Homo sapiens: one gene and its partners. The protein of the gene in region 6 interacts with the protein of the main gene of each other region in a pairwise test. Each region holds a gene or a part of one and is shown on either strand. Other genes may lie near its edges.

Region 1 (4,264 bases), on a different chromosome or scaffold from region 6:
TATATGTGTATATATATATGTATATATATATGTGTATATATATGTATATATATATGTATATATATATATATATAGAGAGAGAGAGAGAGAGAGAGAGAGAATGTCTTGTATTTTGGTGGTGATTGTTCATTCATTTAATGCCTACAAGGTGGCAAACATTTTGCTTATAGAAGGATTATTATCCTCCTAATGTACCACAGCAAAATATCCCCCAAATATTCATATTTAATCTGATAGATTTGAAGTGATTTAATTTCCAGCAACTTCATATATAATAGATTCATTTTGACTTAGGAAATAATATAATCAAATGATCACTCACTTTTTTGGATTTGAGTGCAAACTCAAAGTTCAAATATATTACTCCTTTAAAATGCATAGCATATACCTCCAGAAAATGAAACCCACATTAACATATCTTTCTAAGAGGTGACTAATACATATTTCAAATACCTAAAATGATATGCATAAATTTTTTGCAGAAGTTTGATTAAAACTCGTTTTCCTGAATTAGAATTTAACCTAAGAATTCCTAAGAAGTCATTGAAAATATTTTGATTTAAGCAAAATCTGACCTGTTTAGTTATATCAAAATCAATTTTAAATATGTATGTGAAAATGATGTCTGGATGTTTGGAATTTGGGAAAGTAATTCATTCTTTCAACAAACATTTACTATGCATCCACTATGTGTTAGGCACCACGCTTAACACCAAAAAGTGACATTCTCTCCAAAACAAGTCCAGGAAGAACATCAAATTGCACATTGATGGAAACACTATCAGTTGTCCAGATCAACTGATGAACACTGCTAATGACAGGTGTAGATTACTAAAGTGATCCTTTCTCTGACTTCAATACATATGTAAGCACAGCAAACGACAATAGAGCATACCACAATTTGCTGTACTGACACTACTGCTTTGGGCCAACTAGATAATATGTGTGTAGATATATAGTGTACACTATATACCAACAAAATCAGTTATATAGTAACTTAGGAAACACACTCTGAAGTATTTATTGGTCTTGTTCTAAAAGTCACAATAAAATAAAATCCTGACATGATGCTAAACAATTTTTTTAAACAATAAAAAAGTATACAAGGAATAAACCCAATTTTTAAAATGTAATATATACACCTGCAAATAAAAGAATAATAATTCACCCAAATCTGAGTGGTAAAATTGCAGATGATTTTTATTTTATTTTAAATTTCCATATTTCCAACCTTTCTACAATGACCATGCATTACATTTATAATCAGTAAAAATTACTTGTATGTTAGGTACAGTTAAAAAAAAAAAAAACTGTTCTTAACAACCGTTCCAAACCCTGTGCCTAGTATGGGCCAGGGCAAGGCTTCACATAGGGAAACAGGTATGATCTTAGAGGGCTGATGCAGAAGGCCCAGGGGTCGACCCAACTGGCTAATGACTGGAAACCCTTTAAGAAGAGACAAAACTTCCATATCTAAAGTTACATTTAAATGAATATGCCTGGGGAGAAGGGAAAATAGGAACATGTGTTTCCAGCTCTAGGGCCTAGTTAGGTCACTGGACAAATGGAGTATTGCCTTCTGGTGATGTTTAACTCCATAAAACATCTATGCTTAAACATTTAGTAATGAACATTTAAAGAACTATTTCTAAACATGAGATCACTTTGAAAAGTAACACTTTTTTCTAATTATAAAAATAGCATAATGTTCTTCGTAGAAAACCCAGGAAGTATGAAAAGCTGGGAAATAAAATTAAAATCATCTATAATCCCATCACCCAGAGGCAACCACCATGAGCACTTCGGTATATAACCTTCTAGTAATTTATTCTAGGCATATGTGTGCATCCTGCTTTTTCACTTAATATTTTATCGTGGGTATTTTCTTATGTCATTAATACGCCTAGTAAACCTCATTCTAACCACTGCCTAATATTACTAATGGCTTGAAAATCCTGTTTTTGGATAAACAATATTATTGTATTTACTATGGACCTAACTTATAAGAACAGATGCAAAATGTATCTGATATTTGAAAACTACCCAAGGGATTTTTGGAATTAATGATCTCTCCTGGATCTAACTAACATCAGTATTTTGATTCCAAAATTGATTTTCTTCTGTTCAGATACCTAAAATCACCCATGTTGTGCACCATAAATCACTCACATATTTTGCAAAATACAGTCTTAGGATTGGAAAACCACAACTCCTTAAGAAATATTAGACAGTAAAGTACTCAGTAAATTTCTGTTCTTCCCATATGTAAGCCAGGGCAGGCCCTCCAACCCAGGCTCTGCCTGCTAGAGCAAGTCAATCACTGAGCTTAAAGGAAACACTAAAGTAAGTAAAACAGAGACAAAATTATCCCTAGCACAAAGTTTGGTTTCTGAGTAAATTCATTTTTTTCACTTTTCAAAGTAAGTAAAGTAATAAACTATATTTTTTTCTGAGAAAATTTTCATTCAGAAGCTCCATAAAACAATAATATTATGGGCTTACACCCCTAATATATCAGCATGGCATATGTTTGCTAAGCAAGAGTTCTGAAAATTAACTCATCATACTAATCACAATTCATTTGAAGTACAGGAGATGAAAATTCTATGTAAAAATGTGGAATTTTTATTTAAAAGGAAACTCTGTTTCCAATTATATTTGGTGGTTTGGAGATCCTTTCCTTACCTGCAAGGCAGCTTAGGATCAGAAAGACCTTCCAAAATGCGAACACCATTGTGTGGAGGTTAGTTGAGAGCAGCAGGTGCCAGTAGCTTGCCTGGACTAGGCTGAGTCTCAAATTGGCTTCTTCGATCACACCGAGGTTTGCCTGGCTTATCTGCTGGGCATCGCCAAGCAAACATGCCTCTTTGGGCTTACTTATTGCGTATAGACTTTTTTCAGTACAGATTTGTGTTTCTTTGAAACACTTTTCATGGGGCGTGTTTCCTTGATATATTTGCTACTGTGTTAATAATAAACCCACGCATTTAAATTATTCAAGCTCCTTGTACACAGATTCTCTAAGTCTCATTGTTTAAAATCAATCTTACTAAAACGTTGTACTTGGGCTGGGGGATATGGTTGGAAGAGAGCCTATGCAAATAAAAGCTGACAAGGCTAATTAATTTCAAATATTTCCATGAGTCTTACAGAATTGATTCACTAACCTCCTTTTACAAATTAAGTTAGTAAATTGGTACTATATCGTTTCCTGGGGAGATGGGGCTCACGGGAAGGGCACAGGGGTTATGAAGCTAAAAAGCATTCATTTCTGTGTGAACAAACTCTGGATATGTTACTCTTTTTTGAAACACTGGCAGTTGTCACTACCCTCCACCAAAACTAGCAGTAAAATGATTTACATGCTTTTGTCTGTCGGGTTAGAAACCTTATAGCACGTATTTGCTAACGTAATTTTGCAAAATCAAGTTAGTGAATACATGCTTAAAGACTTTCTTTGGAGAAGTCTGATTTTTTGGAGAATTAAGATACTCAGTAAATGCTATAGGGTTTCCTTAGAAATGGAGGTTCACCAGGAGGGCATGGGAGGCTCCACAGGTAAGGAACTTTCATGGGAACATGAACTTCTAATAGTGTTCCTATTATGCTTAAGTTACCCGGAGAAACCTAAGGACTTTCTCTGGCTCTTCCCATGTGATTTCTAAGTCCTATCATTTCCATCTCCACAGCGACTTTCAGATGTGTTCTTTCTCCAATCTGCTGCTTCCATCTTGGTCCAGGTACTCAGCTTCCCACTTTGGCCTATCATAGCAGCTTCCTAAGTGGTCTCCCTGACTTATTCCACCTTCATCCTGTGTGCCAGCCGCAGGCCAATGTTCCAGCCCTAGTGAAATATTTCCAGTAACACCATAAATGGACTCTTTCATCAAATCCAAAGTCCTTAATATGGATTCCCATTCTTCCAATATCTGATCCTCACCTCATCTGAACTTTAGCCACATTAACTCATGCCCCTGAAAAAGTATGTCAAGATTTATTGCCTCAAAGTGTTCAGTCACATGAAATGTGTACAAATTTCAAGTGATATGTTTTATGTTCCTGTCTTTAATTTACAGGAAATGTTTGACCCCATCTTACTTTAGCCATTCCAATCTCCCACTGCTTCTTAGAAAGCCATTTTGCTTCCATCATGCCTGATTCCTCCTTGCAGCCTATCCTGTCCATGCTCATGTCTGATGCCAAACGTTGGCTCCAGGTGATTTCCATCACTAGAGTTTTCTTCTTCCTCCTCTTACTAGCCAAG
Region 2 (2,734 bases), on a different chromosome or scaffold from region 6:
ATCTCCTGTGTGGAGTGGAGGATTGTTCAGTGAGATCCACTCCAGGGGGTAAAGTGGGAACTGATGGGAAATGATGGGCTAGAGTCCCAGGTAGTGTCTGGGAGGATTTTACTCCAGGACTAAATTCTGGGTCTGTCCTCACCTTGATTACTCTGACAGGCCCTCTGTGTGTCCCCTGATATGGGTAAAGATGTCCTGAGCACTGGCCTTTTGGACAGAGAAGAAACCCAGTGGCCAGGGCTAGGCACCGTGGGTCCCTGGGGCAGTATGAGCACAGCCAAGCGCTCAGCTGGCTGGGCAGGTCTCCTGTGAATCCTGCCCTTTCCTGTGTAGGGTCCACCCCAGCCTGACTCCCAACCCCCTATTTCTGCCTCCCAGGGAAGAGAGACTGGGGTTGAAATAAGTTGGAGATGACATTTTCCTTGTGTGACCCAGGAGAGAATGGATATGGAGTTTCAGGCGAATTTTTGCTAAGTTCCCACTAGCAGAAAAACAGCTAATGAGAGGAAGGGTCCCCTTTATTCAGATCCTTTCCAAGTGACCCCAGGTGGGCCACAGGCCCATTCACTTTCCCTGCAAGCCCCCGCTTTCTGCGGTGATGAGAGGCCTTTGTCCTGACCCACCCAGGGCCTAGGGCAGGCTGTCGAGGTCTCCAGATATTCATCAGGGACCCCCATCCCTCCCTGCCCCCAGACACCAGTGTCTTCTCAGGACTTATAGCTGGTTCTCTGGCTCAGGCTTCATGTCCTTCCCCATCCCCAGGGCTGGGGGCCTTGGGGACTCTCCATCAACACACAGGAGCAGCTCCTGGAGGAAGCTAAGAAGCCACTTCTGCTTTGTGGTCCATCCGGCAGTAAATGTTTGTGTCATGTTTTAGCAATTCCTGTTAAAACAGAGAAGAGGCCTGGACCCCTCTAGTCTCCTCAGAACAGGGTGTGGCGTCTCCCAGGCTCTGGGCCCATCCAGGGCTGCTCTGGGGCTGAACCTGGCTGTGCTCAGGGGGTTCCTGCTCCCAAGCCCCTCCCTCCTCTGCTCGCCACCCCCGTTCTTATTTTCACAGCAGTTTCCTGAATCTCAGAGCTCAGCCGATGCCAGTAGGGGAAGATCCTGGGTCCCCTGGGGCCTGTGGGACCAGAACATCCGTGGCCCACACTCACCTCATAGATGGAAGCTGCTGTCCTGGGGTTGGGTAGGGGGGCCTGGGCAGTGGAGAGAGGGGACATCTGTGGACAGGGAGGGAGGGTCATGGAGGCCCAGCCTGGAAGTTTCCTGTCTCTGATTGGCCAGGATTTACTTCTCTGTGTTTACTTCTGGTCATTTCCCCTCAGGAGTGACCAGCTCTGCCCCTGAGCTCAGCCTCCCAGTGTGGACACAGCACCCTGACCCTTTTCCTGGCTGGGCCCACCCTGCACCCTTGTTAATGTGGGCCCCTGACTGATGGTCCCAGTGTCCACTCTGCACCTGCTGCACTCCAGGGGTCTCCTCAGGTGATGGAGGGTCCCGGGGAGGGGTCAGCACAGGGCGTGGGTGGTCCTGACCCTGTAGGGAGGCCCAGCTCCTGGCCAGGGCAGGGCTAGCCTTGTCCTGTGTGTTTTGGGGGAAGGTGGGTCTGTTCTGTGCTGGGGGGCTGATGGTCCCTCTGCCCAGAGCCTGCACAGCTGGGACCCCAGTAGAAAGGGGCTGGAAGGGGACAGGCTTACCGAGAAGGCAGAGCTGTGGGAGGGACCACGGCCTGGAAACAGAGACAGGAGTGAGCAGCAGGGTGGGAGGAGAGCCTTATCCCCTCTCCAGGAAGGCGTAGGGGGTCCTCAGCTCTAAGATACCTGAGCAGCTGAGGTTGGGGAGGTGACCCATGACCCAGAGCCCACAGGTGAGGGCTGACCCAAGCAATTGGGGTCCCCTGTGTGATGTTTTATGAGATCCTCCTTGCAGCCCCCGGGAAAGGATCAGAGTCTGCCTGGCAGTGACTGGCAGGAGCGGACACTGTGGGGCTGTCCTAGGGGTTCCCAGCCACACCTGGGCTGAGAGGACACTCACCAGGGGCAAGGGCTTGGGGCTGCTGCTCCTTGAGGTCACGCTGGATGCTGGTTCTAGGAAAGGTCAGGGTCATTTGGGAGGGTGCCAGGTTAAAAGCCACAACTTTGGAGTTCGAACAGGGGACAAGAAGGGAAACCCATTTTCAAGGATGGGCATGGAGACCTCCTGTCTCCCTCAGGTTTGTGTTAGGGGGAGCCCAGCAGAGGGGAGTTGAGGAAAGGCTTTAGGAACCCACATCTGTCCTGAGCAGAGGGGAAGGACCCTCAGGCAGATGCCGGGCCAGGAGAACATTGACCCAGGGACCCAGGAAAGGGACTGAGGACCCAAGGAAGGAAACAGACCACGAGGGTTTGCCTGAGAGGAAGGGTCAAGTCCCCAGAGGCAAAGCAGGGCCACGTGTGCAGGACACGGAGGGGACCGCAAGTGTCTTGGATTCTCCTGGAACTCAGTGTCCCTGCTGTGGCCAGACCCTGCACTCAGGGCTGGTGATGCTGAAATGGGACAGTGTCCTTGTCCTCTCTCTCAACCCCTTGGCAAGAGACACAAAGGACGCTCCAGGACATGCTGTTCTGAGGCCCAGGTTCTCCCATCTCACACCTCAGGGCCTATGGTTACCACATCAGCCATGGGGGGCACTGACCCCACCCAGCCTGTCCAGGCTGGTCCACTCCCCATTGTGTGACGGTGCCCAGGATCC
Region 3 (3,500 bases), on a different chromosome or scaffold from region 6:
TCAGCAGACACAGCTCCAGCTCCTCCTCTGTGTCCGGCCCTGGGCTTGGAGCTGGGGAAACGAGGGCAAGTCACACAGGCTGCCTCTGCCCCAGCCTTCAGGAGGAGCAGGAGACAAGGTCAGCTTGAGGCTATACAGACACGGGGAGGGACCTGGGGAGGAAGTTGTCTCATCAGCGTTCCTGCTTCGTGTAACCCCCTCCTGACCTCCCTGCCCTCAGCGTTTCACCTTTATAACTCTAGGAGAAGGGTACTGTTGTTGTACCCATTCGACAGATGAAGAATGAAAGCTCAGAGAGGTTAGGTCACTTGCCCAAGGTCACACAGCCCCTGAGGGGCAAGGCCAGGACTTAGCACCCTCCCCCGACAACCGCTGCCACTCAGCCATCTAACCTCAGCTTCCCCCTGCCTTGTGTGCAGTGTCTGCCCCCATCAACTCCGTGCTGTTGTTCCTCATGGGGATGGCGTGCGCCACACCGCTGCTGAGTGCTGCTGGGCCCGTGGCTGCCCCTAGGGAAGCCTTCCGGGGGCGGGCGCTCCTGTCCGTGGAGTCGGGCAGCAAGGTGAGGCGTGGGCGTGGCGGTCGAAGGGATGGAGGCTGGCTCATCCCCAGGGCTCTCCCCTGCACAGCCTCATGGGTGCTAAATGGGGTGGGGGATCACCTCTGGCTCCTACGAGACACCAAGTGCCCCCTTCTGCCCCACAGCCCTTCACCCGGCAGGAAGTCATTGGCTTCGTCATCGGCTCCATCTCCAGCGTGTTGTACCTGCTTTCCCGGCTGCCTCAGATCCGCACCAACGTGAGCCTCCAGCAGGGGCTGGGTGGGGCCGAGTAGAGGAGAGCTGGCCTGGCCACCCGGGCCCTCTGGGCTAAGGAGTAGCACAGCATAGGAGCCTTGGTTCAGAAAGTCTGGTCTACTCCCGCTGTTGGCTTGGGCAAGTTAATCCAATCTCCGAGCCTCCATTTCTGCTTCTGGAAAATGGGCGTGGCGTGGCCTGCCAGCCAGGCTACAAGAGGCCCATGTGTGTCTTGGGGGAGTGGGAGGTCAGGGGAAGGTGAGGGGCTGAGCTTGGAGGCCTGAGGGGAGAGGAGAAGCTGGGGAGTCGGGGAGGGGAGGCTTGCTGGGCAGCTAGAGCCTGTGTGGGGTGGAATGCAGGGTGGTGTGGGGCCACAGGCCTGGCACAGCCACGGTCTCCCGTGGACCTGGGCAGGGGCCTGGGGGGGCTTGTCTGTGGGTGGGAGGAGGCTCTTCTGTGTGTCGGGCCCATATCCCTGGGCACCCAGGGAAAGATTGGCTCAGAGCAGGTGCACTGTGGTGGGGCAGGTGGACATGTGGACAGTTACAATCCAGAGTGACAAGAGGCCTGTTCGAGGTCTCTGACCTGACCTCCTCCTGCCCCAGTTCCTCCGGAAGTCCACCCAGGGGATCTCCTACTCTCTGTTCGCGCTGGTGATGCTGGGGAACACGCTGTATGGGCTGAGCGTGCTGCTCAAAAACCCCGAGGAGGGCCAGAGCGAGGGCAGCTACCTGCTGCACCACCTGCCCTGGCTTGTGGGCAGCCTGGGCGTGCTGCTGCTCGACACCATCGTATCCTTCAGGGCGTGTGGGGCAGGTGGCGGGGTGTGGGCAAGGAAGCTTCTGCCTGCACACAGCGTCAGCACTCATCCGTCTCTTCCTCCCTTCATCCATCCGTCCATCCATCCATCCCTCCCTCCCTCCCTCCCTCCCTCCATCTGTTCACCCAGTCGTGCACACCTCCTGTGTGCCAGGCACCCAGCTGGACCCTGGAGCCGTGAGTGAGCAAGAACAGCCATGAGTGCCCCAGAAGCTTACAGCCCAGCGGGGCGCAGAGAGGACACAACGCTATCATCAAAGAATTACTTCATTGCAGTGGCACCAAGTGCTGCAGAGAAAAACAACAAGAGCGTCTAGCCAGGGACCGTCCTGGTTAGAGGGGCAGCAAAGGCCCCTATAAGTCTCATTGAACCTGTGACTTGACAGAGTAGGAGAAGTCAGGCGAAGGCAGGAGAGGAATGTTCTAGGCTGTGCAGACGAGAGCTGGAGTGTGGAGAGACACATGACTTGGTCAGACAAACCTGGGTTCAAATCCTGGCTCCTCCCCTGCTTCCTAGCTGTGTGACGCAGGGCACACAGTCAACCTCTCTGTGCTGCCGTGTCTTCACCTCAGTTAACAGCCACTGTCTCGTCAGGATGTTGTGTAAGATGAGGTATCTGGAAACACTCCCCACAGGACCCCGTTTTCAGTGAGGGCTCAGAAAGTGTTTGCTGAATGGCTGTAAAGAGCGTTACCTGGGTCTCATTTCGGAGCAAGTAAACATGGCCTTTGTTTTAATATTTGTTAAGTCCCTGCCGGGCGCAGGGAGGGGTGAAAGTTTAGGCTCTTGTGCCCCAAAACGGCCCAGCCACCTGGAAGCCTCCAGGACGCCACAGCTGAGAGCAAGCGAAGATCCTGGGCCAGGGTCAAGGGAGGCTGCCCACGGGAAGGAGAAGTCAGTGCTAGGCTTGGAGACAGATGGAGCTTGGCTAGGGCTTGAGGAGCCGGGCAGAAGTTCTGAGTGGAGGGCACAGCTAAGGTAGCGGCTGGGAGGTTATGGCTGGCCCTTCCCACCTGCAGCGTGGGGGTGGGAGGGAGGGGAGAGGGAGGCAGCTCCCAGGAGTCGAAGGCCCCCAGGGGCAGGTCCAACCCAGTCTCTGCTCAGCTTGGCCTTAACGGCGGCACCCCCAGATCTCCATCCAGTTCCTGGTGTACAGGCGCAGCACCGCCGCCTCGGAGCTTGAGCCCCTCCTCCCCAGCTGACCAGAACCAGGCTGAGCGCAGGAGGACAGGCACCACCGGATGCCACACCAGGCAGGAGGAGGTGTGGACAGTGATGGTACGGCGGCCCTGCATCAGCCTGCGGGTGGCCTCTGGATCCTCCGTGGACCGAACCGTCCCCCCAGGAACACACCTTCAGGTAGACCCCGAAGCCTCAAGGCCGGGGCTGGAGCGGAGACCCCAGGGCCTCTCAGGAGACAGTGAGGCTGCCCCTCCTACCACCTACCTCATTCTGCCTACTCACCCCAGGGGCCACAGCCACAGCCTGCTGGACTCAGGACTGTCCTGTCAACTCCAGACAACTGAATAAACAGGCCGGGTACAGTGGCTCGCACCTGTAATCCTAGCACTTTGGGAGGCCGAAGCGGGTGGACCACTTGACGTCCGTAGTTCGAGACCAGCCTGGCCAACATGGTGAAACCCCATCTCTACTAAAAATACAAAAATTAGCCAGGTGTGGTGGCACACATCTGTAGTCCCAGCTACTTGGGAGGCTGAGGCAGGAGAACTGTTTGAACCTGGGAGACAGAGGTTGCGGTGAACCGAGATCGTGCCACTGTACTCCAGCCTGGGTGACAGAGTGAGACTCCGTCTCAAAAAAATAAAAAAGATAACCGAGGAAACGGTACCTCCCCATGAGACCTGCTTCTGTTGCTCCTTCCCC
Region 4 (3,995 bases), on a different chromosome or scaffold from region 6:
TCAGTATACAATCTTTTGTATTCTTTGAATTTTCACTGTTTATACACACCTAATCCTAATTAAATAAATTTTAAAAATCAGTGATGTTTGGCCGGATGCGGTGGCTCACGCCTGTAATCCGTGAGCCGAGGCACTTTGGGAGGCCGAGGCAGGCGGATCATCTGAGGTCAGGAGTTCAAAACCAGCCTGGCCAACATGGTGAAACTCCGTCTCTACTAAAAATACAAAAATTAGCTGGGCATGGTGGTGGGCGCCTGTAATCCCATCTACTTGGGAGGCTGAGGCAGGATAATCGCTTGAAACCGGGAGGCAGAGGTTGCAGTGACCTGAGACCGCAACTGCATTCCAGCCTGGGCAACAAAGCAAGACTCTGTCTCAAATAAATAAATAAATAAAAATAAAAAGCCTGGCTGTCTTTGAGTAACTCCGTAGAGCAAGGCGCCTATGTGAGTTTTAGAGCCAGGCACACCTGAGTTGCAATTCCAACCCTGCCATTATTAGGTTGATCCATGTGAAATTCTCCTTTTGTAGGTGAAAAGCAGTCAAATATTAGCATGTCATTTGGTTCAATCTAAATAGCTTTATGACCCTGAGCAAGGTACTTAATCTCTCTGAGTCCCAATTTTCTCATCTCTAAAATAGGGATAATTATCCCTATCCCTTAGGATTGACTAAGGACTAAATTGAACAAATGGAGTAAGTGTACAATAAAGGATAGCTTTTGTTTCCCCAAATTTATTATAATAAGGACATAATATTTTCATAATGCTTTCATAATTCATTATATGAATATTTTCATATTCATATGATAAGGACATAATACTTTCAGAAAATAATAGCTGTGTGATTTTTTTCATGCTAAGGAGAGTGAAAAAATGGAAATAAGGGTCAAAAGCTCTGGTTTTCCCCAGGAGCAGGGAAAGAACTCCAAATTCCTGAGGGGTGAGGGAACAGCATAACCAGAGACTAACAACAATAAGAACCAGGTGTGGTGGCCACGGCCTGTAGTCTGAGCTTCTCCGGAAGTTAAAGCAGGAGGATCCCTTGAGCCTGGAAGTTCGAGGCTGCAGTGAGCTATGATTGCACCACTGTACTCCAGCCTGGGTGACAGAGTGAGACCTTGTCTCTAAAAAAATCAGCGAAACAAACAGAAAAAAACAAGGATGAGGAATGAAGCAGCTGCAAGAATTCAGGGAAAGAAGGAACACAGAAGCCAGATGTGGAAAAAGGAAAATGATCCAGAAAAGCAAGGCCTGAGGCAGAAGGAAAGGAGAATGTGTGGGATCAGGGCCTGAGAGGGGACATTGCAAGGAGTCCTCTCAAAGCTCTGGGTACACAAGACTAAGGAAACCCCCATCTCACTGGGGCTCTTGTCCCTGGTAAATTAGGCGATTAATGAATGATTCTCTTGTGCTGAGTCCATGCCCCTCGTAACTTTTTTTTTTTTTTGAGACAGAGTTTTACTCTTGTTGCCCAGGCTGGAGTGCAATGGTGCGGTCTCGGCTCACCGCAACCTCCACCTCCCGGGTTCAAGCAATTCTCCTGCCTCAGTCTCCAGAGTAGCTGGGATTACGGGCATGTGCCACCACGCCTGGCTAATTTTTTGTATTTTTAGTAGAGACGGGGTTTCACTATGTTAGCCAGGATGGTCTCGATCTCCCAACCTTAGGTGATCTGCCTGCTTTGGCCTCCCAAAGTGCTGGGATTACAGGTGTGAGACGCAGTGCCCAGCCTGATTTTTTTTTTTTTTTTTTTGAGACAGGAGTCTCACTAAATTGCCCAGGCTGGACTCAAATTCTTGGGCCCAAGCAATCCTCCCACCTCAGCCTCCTGGATAGCTGAGACTACAGGTGTGCAGCACCATGCCCAACTCTCTCACAGCATTCTTAGAAGCACAGATTTGGCTCTGGGTTTTATCAAAAGCAGTGACATTTTCCATTGCACCAATCAAATCTATTTAGCCAGGCTACAGGATGAGAAACGATCATCGGAGGTCTCAGTGCCAGTGGAACCATCTTGCAGGCCAAAAAGTAAAGATGACCAGAAAGAGGGAACAAGAATACATCCAGGGTGCAGATACAGAGGCCAAGACAGGCTGGCGGCCTGGGCTGGGATGGGGGGTGGAGGGGCTCACCTTTCCCATTCTCTAAGTCAGAACAGCTCCTGGATTTGTAAAAGTGCAGGAGCCCCATGGACATAACGTGGGCTGATGTGTGGATTCTGTTGCTGACATCCACGGGCCAGCGCTGGTAGAAGAGGCTCCTAGAGAGGTCCAGCCATTTCTTGGAGAAGGCCACGACCAATAGTAGGATAAAGGCAACCAGGCTGAGCTCAGAGGCCAACACCTGGGCCATCCAGCGGAAGCTGTGTGTGATTCTCCATTGAAAGGGCAGCGGAGAGTTCTGGCGCTGGCCCAAGGACCTGTTACTACTGAGGGAGAGGGTGGAGGACAGCAGTCTCCCATCTTGTCCCAGCTCACCTGTGCCCCATCCTGCCTCCCCACTCTTCCTTTCCTTTCCAGGTCTCTGATGTTGGTCTCTTTCTCCTTCTGACCTGGGGAACTCATTCCCAGAGTACTCTGCATCCATCTTGAGCACCACTTCACCCTCTGTCTCCCCTTTCCCTCACCAGACTCAATTGTCTCTTCTCATCTTTTGGATATTTTCATCAGCTGCCACCATGCAGCCTGAGGTCTGAGAAAGAATGAGGAAGTCTAATAACAGACCTCGATCAAATAAGAGACTCTTGATCCAAGAGAAGGCCCCAACCCATTCAGCAGGCCAGGTCCCCTAACTGCCACGGAATTTTCCTGGGGCACAGTGAGATGGGGGAGGGAAGCCAAGTCTTCAGCAATTTTTTTTTTTTTTTTTTTTTTTTTTAGAGAGAGAGACAGGGTCTCCCTCTATTGCCCAGGCTGGGATGCAGTGGCACAACCTTGGCTCACTGCAACCTTGAACTCCTGGGTTCAAGTGATCCTCCCACCTCAGCCTCCTGAGTAGCTGGGATTACAGGATTGTGCCAGCATGCCTGGCTAATTTTTCAATTGTTTGTAGAGATGGGGTCTTGATATGTTACCCAGCCTGGTCTCAAACTCCTGGCCTCTGCCAGGCACGGTGGCTCACGCCTGTAATCACTGCACTTTGGGAGGCCGAGGTGGGTGGATCACCTGAGGTCGGGAGTTCGAGACCATCTTGACCAACATGGAGAAACCCCATCTCTACTAAAAATACAAAATTAGCTGGGCGTGGTAGCACATGCCTGTAGTCCCAGCTACTCAGGAGGCTGAGGCAGGAGAATTGCTTGAACCTGGGAGGCGGAGGTTGCGGTGAGCCGAGATCGCACCATTGCACTCCAGCCTGGGCAACAAGAGTGAAACTCAGCCTCAAAAAAAAAAAAAAAAAACTCCTGGCCTCATGAGATCCTCCCCACTTGGCCTCCCAAAGCACTGGGATTACAGGTGTGAGCCACCTTGCCTGGCCTGTGGCTCCAGCTCTAACTCTTTCCGGAAATCCTGTTTCTCAGGCCACAGCTCAGAACTGTGGATCTGACACCTCCCTCCAGCTTCTGCCTCCCTTTACATATGAGCAATGGTATGTGAGAGGCCCTCCTGTGGTCTGCATATGGTTAATTTGTCTTCACCAAACCTCATGCTGAAATTTGCTCCCCAGTGTGGTGGTGATGGGAGGTGAGAGGGCCTAGTGGGTGGTGTTTGGGTCATGGGGGCAGATGCCTTGTGATTGGATTAACGCCTTCCCTGAGACCTCACTCCATTAGCTCCCCGCAATAGCTGGTTGTTAAAAAGAACCTGGCGCTGTTACCAAGCAAAAGTGCTCGCTGCCAGATGTGCATAGAAGCCAATACTCCAATACTAGGGCACTAGGTTTTGAGAAAAGGAAAGCTTTATTGTGAGCTGACCCACGAGGATACGGGAATCCAGCTCAAATCTGTCTCTCTTTGCTGGTCTTAAGGCAGTACTTTTATTAGAAAAGGTTTAG
Region 5 (3,500 bases), on a different chromosome or scaffold from region 6:
AGACTGAACAGGTCCTGGGCATCCCAGACGATGGCTTCAAACTCTGGAGGCAGGCACTGTCCCTGGTGGTCTCTCCACTGAACCTTAGGCTTGGGGTACCAGCCACTGGATCTGAGCCTCAGCTGAATGCCTCCTTCCTTGAAGCCCTCAAGGGAGAGGTGAGGGTCTGAGCCCAGCCCTGGTGGAGGCAGGAGGAGTGGGAAAGGTCAGGCTTCTTCTGAGAAATCACGCATAACATTCCTGCCACTGTTCAGCATTTGCAGTCACCATAAAGCATCATGAAGTGTGACTGCTATTAAGACGTGTGTGGGCTTGGCGCTCCCCGCCCATGGACGGGAAATGACAGTCTAAATCAGTGGTAGCATGTGGGGACAGTAATGCCCCTGAGGGACATTTGGAAATGTGAAGGGGGTCATTGGGTGGGGAAGGGCTCCTGGCATTTAATCATGTTAGGCAAGGGACAGTTTCCCTAGAATGAAGAATAGCAGCACCCTAAATTCTAATAATTAGAGTTGTGACTCTTCTCCTTCTCTTGAATTCCCCCAGAGCTCTAGTGCCTGCATTATACACACTCCCTTATCTCTCCATCCTTGTGGAACTAGCATTATATTTTGAGTATGCAAAACATTAATGTGGCATAAATGCCAATGCTGTACAGAAATGTGTATCAGGAAAAAAGCGCCATCCTTCCCGTCATCACACCTCACCCTCAGCGGCCAATCTCATCAGCTTCTAGTTTATCCTTCCTATGTTCCCTTTTGCAATGTTTCTCCTTCTTTCTTACAAAGCAAGTGTATGTTATCGAACCTTGCATCTTACTTTTCTCTCTTAACAATACTAGAAATCACTCTGCATCCATTCAGAGACCACCTCATCATTGTTTCAGATGCATAATACAGATTACTCCATTGGGTGGATAGAGCATACTCAGCTTTTATGCTTGGACATTTAGGTGGTTTCCACTATTTTGCAATTGTTTTTAAAAAGCTTTACAAAGATTAAACTCATACATATGCTTTTTTCATATTGGAGGTATCGGAGGTGGAGTAAGTTCCTGGAGGTGGGATTGCTGTGTCAGAGGGTAGCCACACAGCTAGTCCTCTTAAGTATTACCAAATTTCCCTGTCCGGGAGCTTTCCAACTTTGAATTCCACTAACATAGTATAAGACAGCTTTCTTCTCCATAGCTCCATTAACAGTACATGGAAGAGCTTTTGAAATTTTGCTAGTCTGACAGTTAAAAAAAAATTGCATTTTGACATAGCTTTGATTTGCCTTTCTCTCACTATGAGTAATTTTGTTACTCAATATATTATATATTATATATATTATATAATATATATTATTTTTATATTATATATATTTATATATCATATATATGATATATTATATAACTAATATAATTATATAATATTATATAACTAATATAATTATATAATATTATATAACTAATATAATTATATAATATATAACTATATAATTAATATATAGCATACTATATATATCTATATCTATATATATAGATAGATATATATATAGATATATATATATATTTCAAGACAGAGTTGTCACCCAGGCTGGAGTGCAGTGGCAAGTCAAGCTCACTGCAGCCAGATCCTTCCACCTCACCCCCCTGAGTAGCTGGGACTACAGGCACGCACCACCACACCTGGCTAAGAGATGGGGTCTCCCTATGTTGCCTGGGCTGGTCTCGAACTCTGGAGCTCAAGTGATCTGCTTGCCTCGGTCTACCAAAGTGCTGGGATTACAGGCTTGAGCCACTGTACCCGGCCCTTTTCATATATTTAAGGGCTATTTGTGTATTTTTTGGTGAACTGTTTGTTTTGTTTGTTCATTTGAGAATGGACCTATCCATCAGCTTTTATGTTTTTTAAAAATCACCGACATTCTTCTGTTCTCTGTGACTCCACCTCTACTTGGCAAAGCACCTGGATCTCCCTCTCCTCTGCAGGGCCTTAGGTCAGTCCACGCACCTGCTACCTCCAGTTCCCAGAGAGCTTCGCCAGAGAAGTTGTCGGAGTGGAAGCGGCAGCCATATGTGCCCTTGTCAGAGGGGATGATGCTGTGAAGCTGCAGGACCACGCTGCCATAGGCGATGTCGTCCTTGACCAACTTGGTCCTGTTCCGGAACGCCGGCATCTGCCTGCCAGGGAGCTCCTGCTGCTCCTGGTACAGGTGTACCACATTGAAGGTCTGACTCCGGAACCAGCGGATCTCCATTTGCTGGGCATCCAGCTGTGGCCATAGGTGGCACGGGAACTCCACCTCCTCCCCGACGAGGGCCAGGATGGGATACTCAGGGCCTAGCACCTTGACCTCTAGGATGACAAGTCAGAACAGGCAAAAGCAACCCTCATCCAATTTTTAAAAAAGTTATCACACCCCTTTATAGCTGAGGAATCTACAGTAAACCATAAAAACAAGAAAGGTGAGATACTCTACAGGACAACTGGCCTAGATCCTTGAACAAGTAATTTTTACGAAAAAACGTTGAGTGCACGATTAAACAAATACACAGGTGACATCACAACCAGATTTGTGGTGCTGAGCTGGTAACTGGTTTCATCCAACCAGGTACAAATGTTATTTTGGGGACAATTATGTAAATATGACCAAGGCATTAAGCGAAATGGAATCTTTGATCAAAAAAGCAAGTGTCAAAATAATCTGTAGAATATTATCTTAAGTAAAAAACATACGTATTTGCATAAATGTGCAGAGAAAAATACCTGAAAGGAGACATCAAATTGCTGATGGTGATAATTTCTGCATGATGAGAATAGATATTTTCTCATTTTTGCTTGTCTGATTTTCCAAGTTTAAAAAATAATTCACATGTACAGCTTCTACAAAGGGTATCAAAAATCATCCATGAGGGCTTCCTGCTCCACAGGTTTTCTTATCAAAAGGCCAACCAAATCCTTCCTTTGAGACTCATTTGTTGGGATCTTTCATTTGATCACCCTCCTCTTTGACGGCTTCTTCATGGGGCCTCTCTGCTCCCTGTGGTCTGGTCTGTTGTCTGCAGTTCCCATGAGAGTTGCTGCTCCTGCACAGTTCTTCCGCACGCACGGTTCCCTGCCACCCCACAGGCACTCACTCTTCTCTCTGGCCTCTGTACTTCTCCTCTCCTTTCTTTCCAAGTTCAGCTAAAACTCCATCCCAAAGCTCTCTTGTCATGGACACCCCTGTCCTGCACTTGGCCCACAGGAAATGGAGGGACCTTCCTTTGTTCACACTATTTGAGGCACCTCATTGCCCGCTGGGTGAGTATCCAATACCCTTCCTACAAGTTTCCCTCTCCAGGTTCTCTCCGGCTGTCTCTCTCCACACACCGATGTCTGACTGTTTCCCTGGGCACACCCTACCTCAGCTAATCCCCTACCTGTCAACTTCCTGGGGAACGTGCATCCTGTAAGCCTCTGCTCCAACTATATTCCCACTCTACGGCTCTCCTCAGCTTTCCGGGAACAAATCAT
Region 6 (3,500 bases):
TGGATGCCCGGTTATTCTGGCACCATTCGTTGAAAAGACTATCTCTGCTACATCGTATTGTCTTTGTTCCTTTATCAAAGATCAGTTGGGTCTATTTCTGGGTTCATTATTCTGTTCCATTGATCTATTTGTCTATTCTTTGTCCAAAACACATTGTCTTAATTATTGTAGCTTTACAGTAATTTTTTTTTTTTTTTGAGACAGAGTCTTGCTCTGTCACCCAGGCTACAGTGCAGTGGCGCAATCTCGGCTCACTGCAACCTCCACCTCCCAAGTTCAAGCGATTCTCCTGCCTCAGCCTCCCGAGTAGCTGGGATTACAGGGGCCCGCCACCACATCTGGCTAATTTTTGTATTTTTAGTAGAGATGGGGTTTCACCATCTTGGCCAGGCTGGTCTCGAACTCCTGAACTTGTGATCCACCAGACCCTACCTCCCAAAGTGCTGGGATTACAGGTGTGAGCCACCATGCCTGGCCGCTTTACAGTAATTCTTCAAGTCGGGTAGTGTCAGTCCTCTGACTTTGTTCTTTTCCTTCAGTATTTTGTCACCTATTTTGGGTTTATTTTATTTTATTTTATTTTTAGACAGAGTCTCACTCTGTCTCCAGGCTGGAGTGCAGTGACGTAATCTTGGCTCACTGCAACCTCCGCCTCCTGGGTTCAAGTGATTCTCCTGCCTCAGCTTCCCAAGTAGCTGGGACAACAGGTGCCCACCACCACGCCCAGCTAATTTTTTGTATTTTTAGTAGAGATGGGGTTTCACCATGTTGGCCAGGATGGTCTCGATCTCTTGACCTCATGATCCACCCACCTCAGCCTCCCGAAGTGCTGGGATTACAGGCGCGAGCCACTACGCCCTGCGGGTCTTTTGCTTCTCTATATAAACTAACTATACAATTAGTTTGTTGATATTCACAACTGATTTTGATTGGGATTGTTTGAATCTATAGTGAGTCCTCTTATCCATAAACATGGAATATCTATCTATCTATTTATTTTATATTTATTTATAAATTTATTTATTTATTTATTAAGATGGAGTCTTGCTCTGTCACCCAGGCTGGAGTACAGTGGCACAATCTCAGCTCACTGCAAACTCCGCTTCCCAGGTTGAAGCAATTCTCCTGCCTCAGCCTCCTGAGTAGCTGGGATTACAGGTGCGTGCCACCATGCCCAGCTAATTTTTGTATTTTTAGTAGTGACAGGGTTTCACCATGTTGACCAGGCTGGTCTCGAACTCCTGACCTCAAGTGATCCACCCGCCTCAGCCTCCCAAAGTGCTGAGATTACAGACGTGAGCCACCGCGCTTGTCCCCTTCATTTATTTAGTTCCTTGATTTATTTAATCAGTTTTGTAGTTTTCCTCATAATAGATATTGTACATATTTTGTTAGATTTATACATAGGCATTTCACTTTTTTAGGTGCTAATGTAAATGGTAGTGTTTTAAGTTTCAGATTCTACTTGTTCAGTGCTGTTTCATAGGAAAGTGATTGCATTTTATGTATTAACCTTGTATCCTGCAACCTTGCTATAATTGCTTATTAGTTCCAGCAGATTTTTGGTCAGTTCATTTAGATTTTCTACATAGACAATCATGTCATCTGCAAACAGAGATAGTTTTATTTCTTCACTCCCAATCTGTAGTCCCTTCATTTCCTTTTTCTGAAGGAACTACATTGCATTTACTAGGACTTCCTAGCAAAGACTGGGAAACTGCTAAGACTTGTTCATACTGAATGCAAATTCAATGTATGAAGCAGTGGTGACAGGAGACATCCTTGCCTGTTTCTAATCTTAGTGGGAGTGCTTCTACTTTCTTATCATTAAGTATGATGTTAGTTATAGGCTTTTTGTAGATATTCTTTATCAAATTGAGGAAATTATCTAGTGTACTGAGAGTTTTTATCATGAATGGGTGTTGAATTTTGCCAAATACTTTTTCTACATCTATTAATATGATCATGTGATTTTTCTTTTTTAGTCAGTTGGTGTGATTAATTACATTAATTGATTTTCTTTTGTTTTTATTTTATTCTCTTTTTTTTTTTTTGAAATGGAGTTTGGATCTTGTTGCCCAGGCTGGAGTGCAATAGTTGATCTCAGTTCACTGCAACCTCCACCTCCCAGGTTCAAGTGATTCCCCTGCCTCAGCCTCCCGAGCAGCTGAGATTACAGGCGGGTGTCACCACGCCCGACTAATTTTGTATTTTTAGTAGAGACAGGTTTCTCCATGTTGGTCAGGCTTGTCTTGAACTCCCAACCTCAGGTGATCCACCCACCTCGGCCTCCCAAAGTGCTAGGGTTAAAGGCGTGAGCCACTGCACCTAGCATTAATTGATTTTCAAATGTTGAACCAGTCCTGCATACCTGGACTAAACCCCAGTTGGTGTGGTGTATAATTCTTTTTTTTTTTTTTTTTTGAGACGGAGTTTCACTCTTGTTGCCTAAGCTGGAGTGCAATGGCATGATCTCGGCTCACCGCAACCTCTGCCTCCCGGGTTCAAGCAATTATCCTGCCTCAAGGTCCGGAGTAGCTGGGATTATACGCATGTGCCACCATGCCCGGCTAATTTTTATATTTTTAGTAGAGACGGGGTTTCTCCATGTTGGTCAGGCTGGTCTCGAACTCCTGACAGGTGATCTGCCCACCTCGGCCTCCCAAAGTGTGGGATTACAGGCGTGAGCCACCGTGCCTGACCCCATCCATTTACTTTTAATCCGTATGTGTCTTTTTTTGTTTGATACAAGGTCTTACTCTATCACCCATCACCCAGGCTGGAGTGCAGTGGCACCATCTTGGCTCACTGCAGCCTGAAATGCCTTGGCACAAGCAATCCTCCCACTTCAGCCTCCCAAGCAGCTAGGACTACAGGCACAAACCACCACACCCAGCTATTTTCTTATTCTTTGTAGAGATGGGGTCTCACTATATTGCCCAGGCTAGTCTTACTCCTGGCTTCAAGTGATTTTCCCATTTCAGCCTCCTAAAGTGCTGGGTTACAGGGGTGAGATACCACACTCAGCTGATCTATATGTATCTTTATGGTTAATGTGAGTTTCTTGTAGACAACATACAGTTGAGTCTTCTTTTTGTGTCCATCCTGACAATTTCTGCCTTTCAATTATGCACTTAGACCATTGACATTCAAAGTGATTACTGATATAGTTGGATCTACCACATTTGTTACTGTTTTTCTATTTGTTACCCTCATTCTTTGCTCCTATTTTTGTCTTCCACTTTTTTTTTTGCCTTTGGTGGTTTTAACTGAGCATTTTATATGTTCCTGTTTTATCTCCATTCATAGTGTATCAGTTGTACTTTTTTTTAACTTTTTTTAGTTATTGCCCTGGAGTTTGCAGTTTACAAGTACAACAAATCCAAGTGCACTTTCAAATAACACTATACCATTTCATGGATCGTGTGAGTACCTTATGATAACAAAACAATCCTAATTCCTCCATCCTGTTCCACGTATCATTGCTGGCATTCATTTTA
Region 7 (3,500 bases), on a different chromosome or scaffold from region 6:
GAAACATACATAAATATATGTATCTATATATACTTATGTATTTGTTGTTTAAACAAAAAAGAATTGAAGTTTTTATTGAAGAATATACATTTCTTTCCATGCCAATGAATATATAAAGTGCTCAGAACAGTGCCTTACACATAGTAAATGCTACATAAATGTTAGATACAATTATTTTCATCAATTATTATTTTGAATGTTTATAGCATACCAATTCTGTATCAATGAACAAAGTATTTCCAATTTTTCACTATTTTAAAAAACAGAATCATCCTAATAGCTTTTTTTTAATTTTTTTAGATTAAATTGCTAACAGTAGAACTGTTGAGTCAGTGGGTAGGCAAATTTAAAAATGTCACATATAGTCACAAACTTCCCTTCAGAAAAAATGAATCAATGAACCTCAGGCAAAGGGTTGGGAGAGTGATTTTTTTCTACATCATATTCAATACCACATATCATGATTGACCTTTTACATCTCTGCCGTATTAATACATATTTTTATTTAACTTAGTGTTATTTTCATTTGAGTTTAAGTTAAAATTTTTATTGCCAGCAAAAATGAACTATTATTGAATTATTTTATTTTATTTTTTTTGAGATGGAGTCTCGCTCTGTCGCCCAGGCTGGAGTGCAGTGGCACGATCTCGGCTCACTGCAACCTCCACCCCTCCAGGTTTAAGCAATTCTCTGCCTCAGCCTCCGGAGTAGCTGGGATTATAGGTTCGTGCCACGCCTGGCTAATTTTTTGTATTTTTAGCAGAGACAGGGTTTCACCGTCTTGGCCAGGCTGGTCTTGAACTCCAACCACCTCGGCCTCCCAAAGTGCTGGGATTACAGGCGTGAGCCACCGTGCCTGGCCACTTATTGACATTTTTAATTTTTTTTTAGGAAACTGCCTTTGGTAACCCAATGCCCACTTTTCTATTAGATTCTCATTATTTTCATAGTAATTTGTAAGAGTTCTTTTGTGCATACGTGTCACTAGGACTAGTCACAGAGTCACATAAGACTATGTGTTCTATTTCTCACTAGAGTTTACTTCTTTTCATTTTTGCTTTTTAACTTTGTAGAATAGCTCTTTAAAAATTGGGTAGTATAAGATCTATCCACCTTTTTCCTTTATGATTTGTGGCTTGCTTGTCCTGCTTTGAAATTTTTTCCTCCTCCAAGCACATATAAAGACTTATCTATATTATCTACTAGTAACTTGAAGACTTTCACTTTTTAAAACGTATTTAAGTTTTTGATACTTTTGGAATTTAACTGGGTATACAATATTCAATAATTTTCCTTTTTCTAAATGGTTATTAAGTTGTTCTATTATTTTTTTCTCTCAGATTTGAAATGTTATCTTTATCTTGTACTAAAATGCTCATACATAAATAGGTTTATTAATATTCGTTCCATTGATCTGTCTGTCTCTTCTGGAACCAATACCTTCCAATATCTCACCATTTTAATTATCTGCAGTAATAATAAAAAAAAATGTTAGGTGCTTCTGTACCAAGAAACATGCTAAAAAAGTTTTGTGGGGAAAAAAAGAGAAAATCTGTATGGTTAAAAAAAAAAAACTATAGCTAATTTGCTTTTATTTCTTTACTGGCCATCTTCTTGAAATTGTAGTTTCAAAGCGTTAAGTGTACTTTCCCCATGCCACTTATTAATTTGGGAACTTTCTATATGTGATATATACTATGTCGTACACCACTATTATTCACTTCTATACATTGTGGGAAATACGGTGCTGGGAGAAGCACTAGAGCCTTCTACACAATTTATACCCATGGTACTATAAAATAATTAGCCATTATTTATAAAGCAAGCCTTATTATACACAGAGAATAATTGTTGTTTCAAAGTAAAAAGTACAACTTGACCTCTTCTCTCTCAATATTTTTAAAAGAACATAAAACAAAACTTGACAAATATAATATCTGATAGAATGGAGACAAAAAAAAAAAAAAACCTTCCAGGTAGGACCAGGAAGTCAGCCTAAGGTTTAGGAAGCAATGCCTCAGAAGAGGCATCGCTGCTGCCAGCCATAAAAGCAGAGCCAATGCAAACTCTGGACATGAGCAGAAAATGAAAACAAAAACACAGACGCGCACACACACAACCCCTTAACGTCTTCATAATTAAAATCTACAAATTAATGTTGGTAAAATTTCTGATTTAAAATGGAAATAAATGATATTCAGATATAGGAGAATTTATTGCAGTTTCAAACATCCTTAAGTATCCTGGAAAAATAGAAAATTGTTTATGTACCCTAATGCATTCTAAGTAAATATTGCAGATGGACAGTAACAGCAATACAGAAACACAGAAAATGTAAATAAGAGTAAATATGTTATTACTATATGAAATAAATGACAGAATAGATTTGTCAACACAGCAACTATAATAATTGCTACAGTCAAATTTATTTATTGTCATTTAATTCTGAAGTCATATTCCCCCTTTCACACTAGATTCAAAGGTAATTTAAGAGTAAGAAAAAGCAGTAAACCTTTAATCAGTCTCTCATGTTTAATTTCTTATAGAAATAATCTCTCAGAAGAAACACATCTGTTTCCCTGCCTCCTTTCCCAACTTTCCACCTTCTTTTCCAAGTTCCAACTTATAACTTAAGATACAAAAATTACATTTGCCATCATTCATACCTCAATGATTACAGATGCTATTGGCTGGAAAGGATTCGTTGGTTCTGGGTCCAACTCAGCCAGACCACTGGTTCCATCGAGTTCAGCCTGCTCCTGTTCATTTTGTTTTCTATCGTTTGAGGAAAAATAATTGAAATTTCCTTTGAGAAAGTGCTGAACCATGTTAAAGAAAACTGCAATAGGTATAAGGCTATTACATGTAGTAATTTAAACATCTGGACATGGTTTTGAATTACTGAGAGCATTTCAAAAATCCTTATGCAGGTAAGAGGCTGCTTCCTCCCATGTAAAGACTAATCATTTCAATTAAAAAAATGCTGATAAAAATGACATTTCCTATGAGTGACTTCTTAATATCAACAGTGCAATTATTCTTCCATGTGCCAAGGGTATTACTGATCAACTTATTAATTACCCTCCAAAATCAATGCTGTCCTCTTTACTGGTGTTAACAAATAGTAATTATTCTTTTTTTTTTTTTTTTTTTTTGAGTCGGAGTCTTGCATTCTCGCCCAGGCTGGAGTGCATTGGCACCATCTCGGCTCACTGCAAGCTCCACCTCCCGGGTTCACGCCATTCTCCTGCCTCAGCCTCCTGAGTAGCTGGGACTACAGGCGCCCGCCACCAGGCCTGGCTAATTTTTTGTATTTTTAGTAGAGACGGGGTTTCACCCTATTAGCCAGGATGGTCTCGATCTCCTGACCCTGTGATCTGCCTGCCTCTGCCTCCCAAAGTGCTGGGATTACAGGTGTGAGCCACCGCGCCCAGCCAAATAGTAATTATTCTTATTAATTCTTTTCTTAAGGGCTAAGTCTTCTCTTACAAAACTAGGAA

The links.
Region 1: the proteins of NINJ2 (region 6) and VSIG1 interact in binary tests that used the Homo sapiens proteins (3 or more experiments, as listed by UniProt).
Region 2: the proteins of NINJ2 (region 6) and CEACAM3 interact in binary tests that used the Homo sapiens proteins (3 or more experiments, as listed by UniProt).
Region 3: the proteins of NINJ2 (region 6) and SLC66A1 interact in binary tests that used the Homo sapiens proteins (3 or more experiments, as listed by UniProt).
Region 4: the proteins of NINJ2 (region 6) and ODF4 interact in binary tests that used the Homo sapiens proteins (3 or more experiments, as listed by UniProt).
Region 5: the proteins of NINJ2 (region 6) and BTNL9 interact in binary tests that used the Homo sapiens proteins (3 or more experiments, as listed by UniProt).
Region 7: the proteins of NINJ2 (region 6) and ARL13B interact in binary tests that used the Homo sapiens proteins (3 or more experiments, as listed by UniProt).

What each region holds. Positions count from the first base shown.
Region 1 is NC_000023.11:108,043,601-108,047,864, reverse strand, and holds the start of VSIG1 (V-set and immunoglobulin domain-containing protein 1 isoform 2 precursor), read right to left. Parts: upstream 2,801-4,264; 5' UTR 2,735-2,800; coding exon 2,686-2,734; intron 1-2,685.
Region 2 is NC_000019.10:41,809,321-41,812,054, reverse strand, and holds the end of CEACAM3 (cell adhesion molecule CEACAM3 isoform 1 precursor), read right to left. Parts: intron 2,091-2,734; coding exon 2,038-2,090; intron 1,733-2,037; coding exon 1,701-1,732; intron 1,224-1,700; coding exon 1,158-1,223; intron 884-1,157; coding exon 818-883; 3' UTR 501-817; downstream 1-500.
Region 3 is NC_000001.11:19,325,826-19,329,325, forward strand, and holds the end of SLC66A1 (lysosomal amino acid transporter 1 homolog), read left to right. Parts: intron 1-419; coding exon 420-562; intron 563-705; coding exon 706-798; intron 799-1,401; coding exon 1,402-1,587; exon of another isoform or gene 1,588-1,745; coding exon of another isoform or gene 1,746-1,796; exon of another isoform or gene 1,797-2,746; coding exon 2,747-2,818; 3' UTR 2,819-3,475; downstream 3,476-3,500. UniProt on the Homo sapiens protein: Amino acid transporter that specifically mediates the pH-dependent export of the cationic amino acids arginine, histidine and lysine from lysosomes.
Region 4 is NC_000017.11:8,338,645-8,342,639, reverse strand, and holds the start of ODF4 (outer dense fiber protein 4), read right to left. Parts: upstream 2,801-3,995; 5' UTR 2,589-2,800; coding exon 2,135-2,588; intron 1-2,134. UniProt on the Homo sapiens protein: Component of the outer dense fibers (ODF) of spermatozoa which could be involved in sperm tail structure, sperm movement and general organization of cellular cytoskeleton.
Region 5 is NC_000005.10:181,046,766-181,050,265, reverse strand, and holds part of BTNL9 (butyrophilin-like protein 9 isoform a precursor), read right to left. Parts: intron 2,868-3,500; exon of another isoform or gene 2,751-2,867; intron 2,340-2,750; coding exon 1,995-2,339; intron 179-1,994; coding exon 1-178.
Region 6 is NC_000012.12:653,446-656,945, reverse strand, and holds part of NINJ2 (ninjurin-2), read left to right. Parts: intron 1-3,500. UniProt on the Homo sapiens protein: Its role in unclear. In contrast to NINJ1 paralog, does not mediate plasma membrane rupture (cytolysis) downstream of necroptotic and pyroptotic programmed cell death.
Region 7 is NC_000003.12:94,039,155-94,042,654, reverse strand, and holds part of ARL13B (ADP-ribosylation factor-like protein 13B), read right to left. Parts: intron 2,776-3,500; coding exon 2,667-2,775; intron 1-2,666. UniProt on the Homo sapiens protein: Cilium-specific protein required to control the microtubule-based, ciliary axoneme structure. May act by maintaining the association between IFT subcomplexes A and B. Binds GTP but is not able to hydrolyze fit; the GTPase activity remains unclear.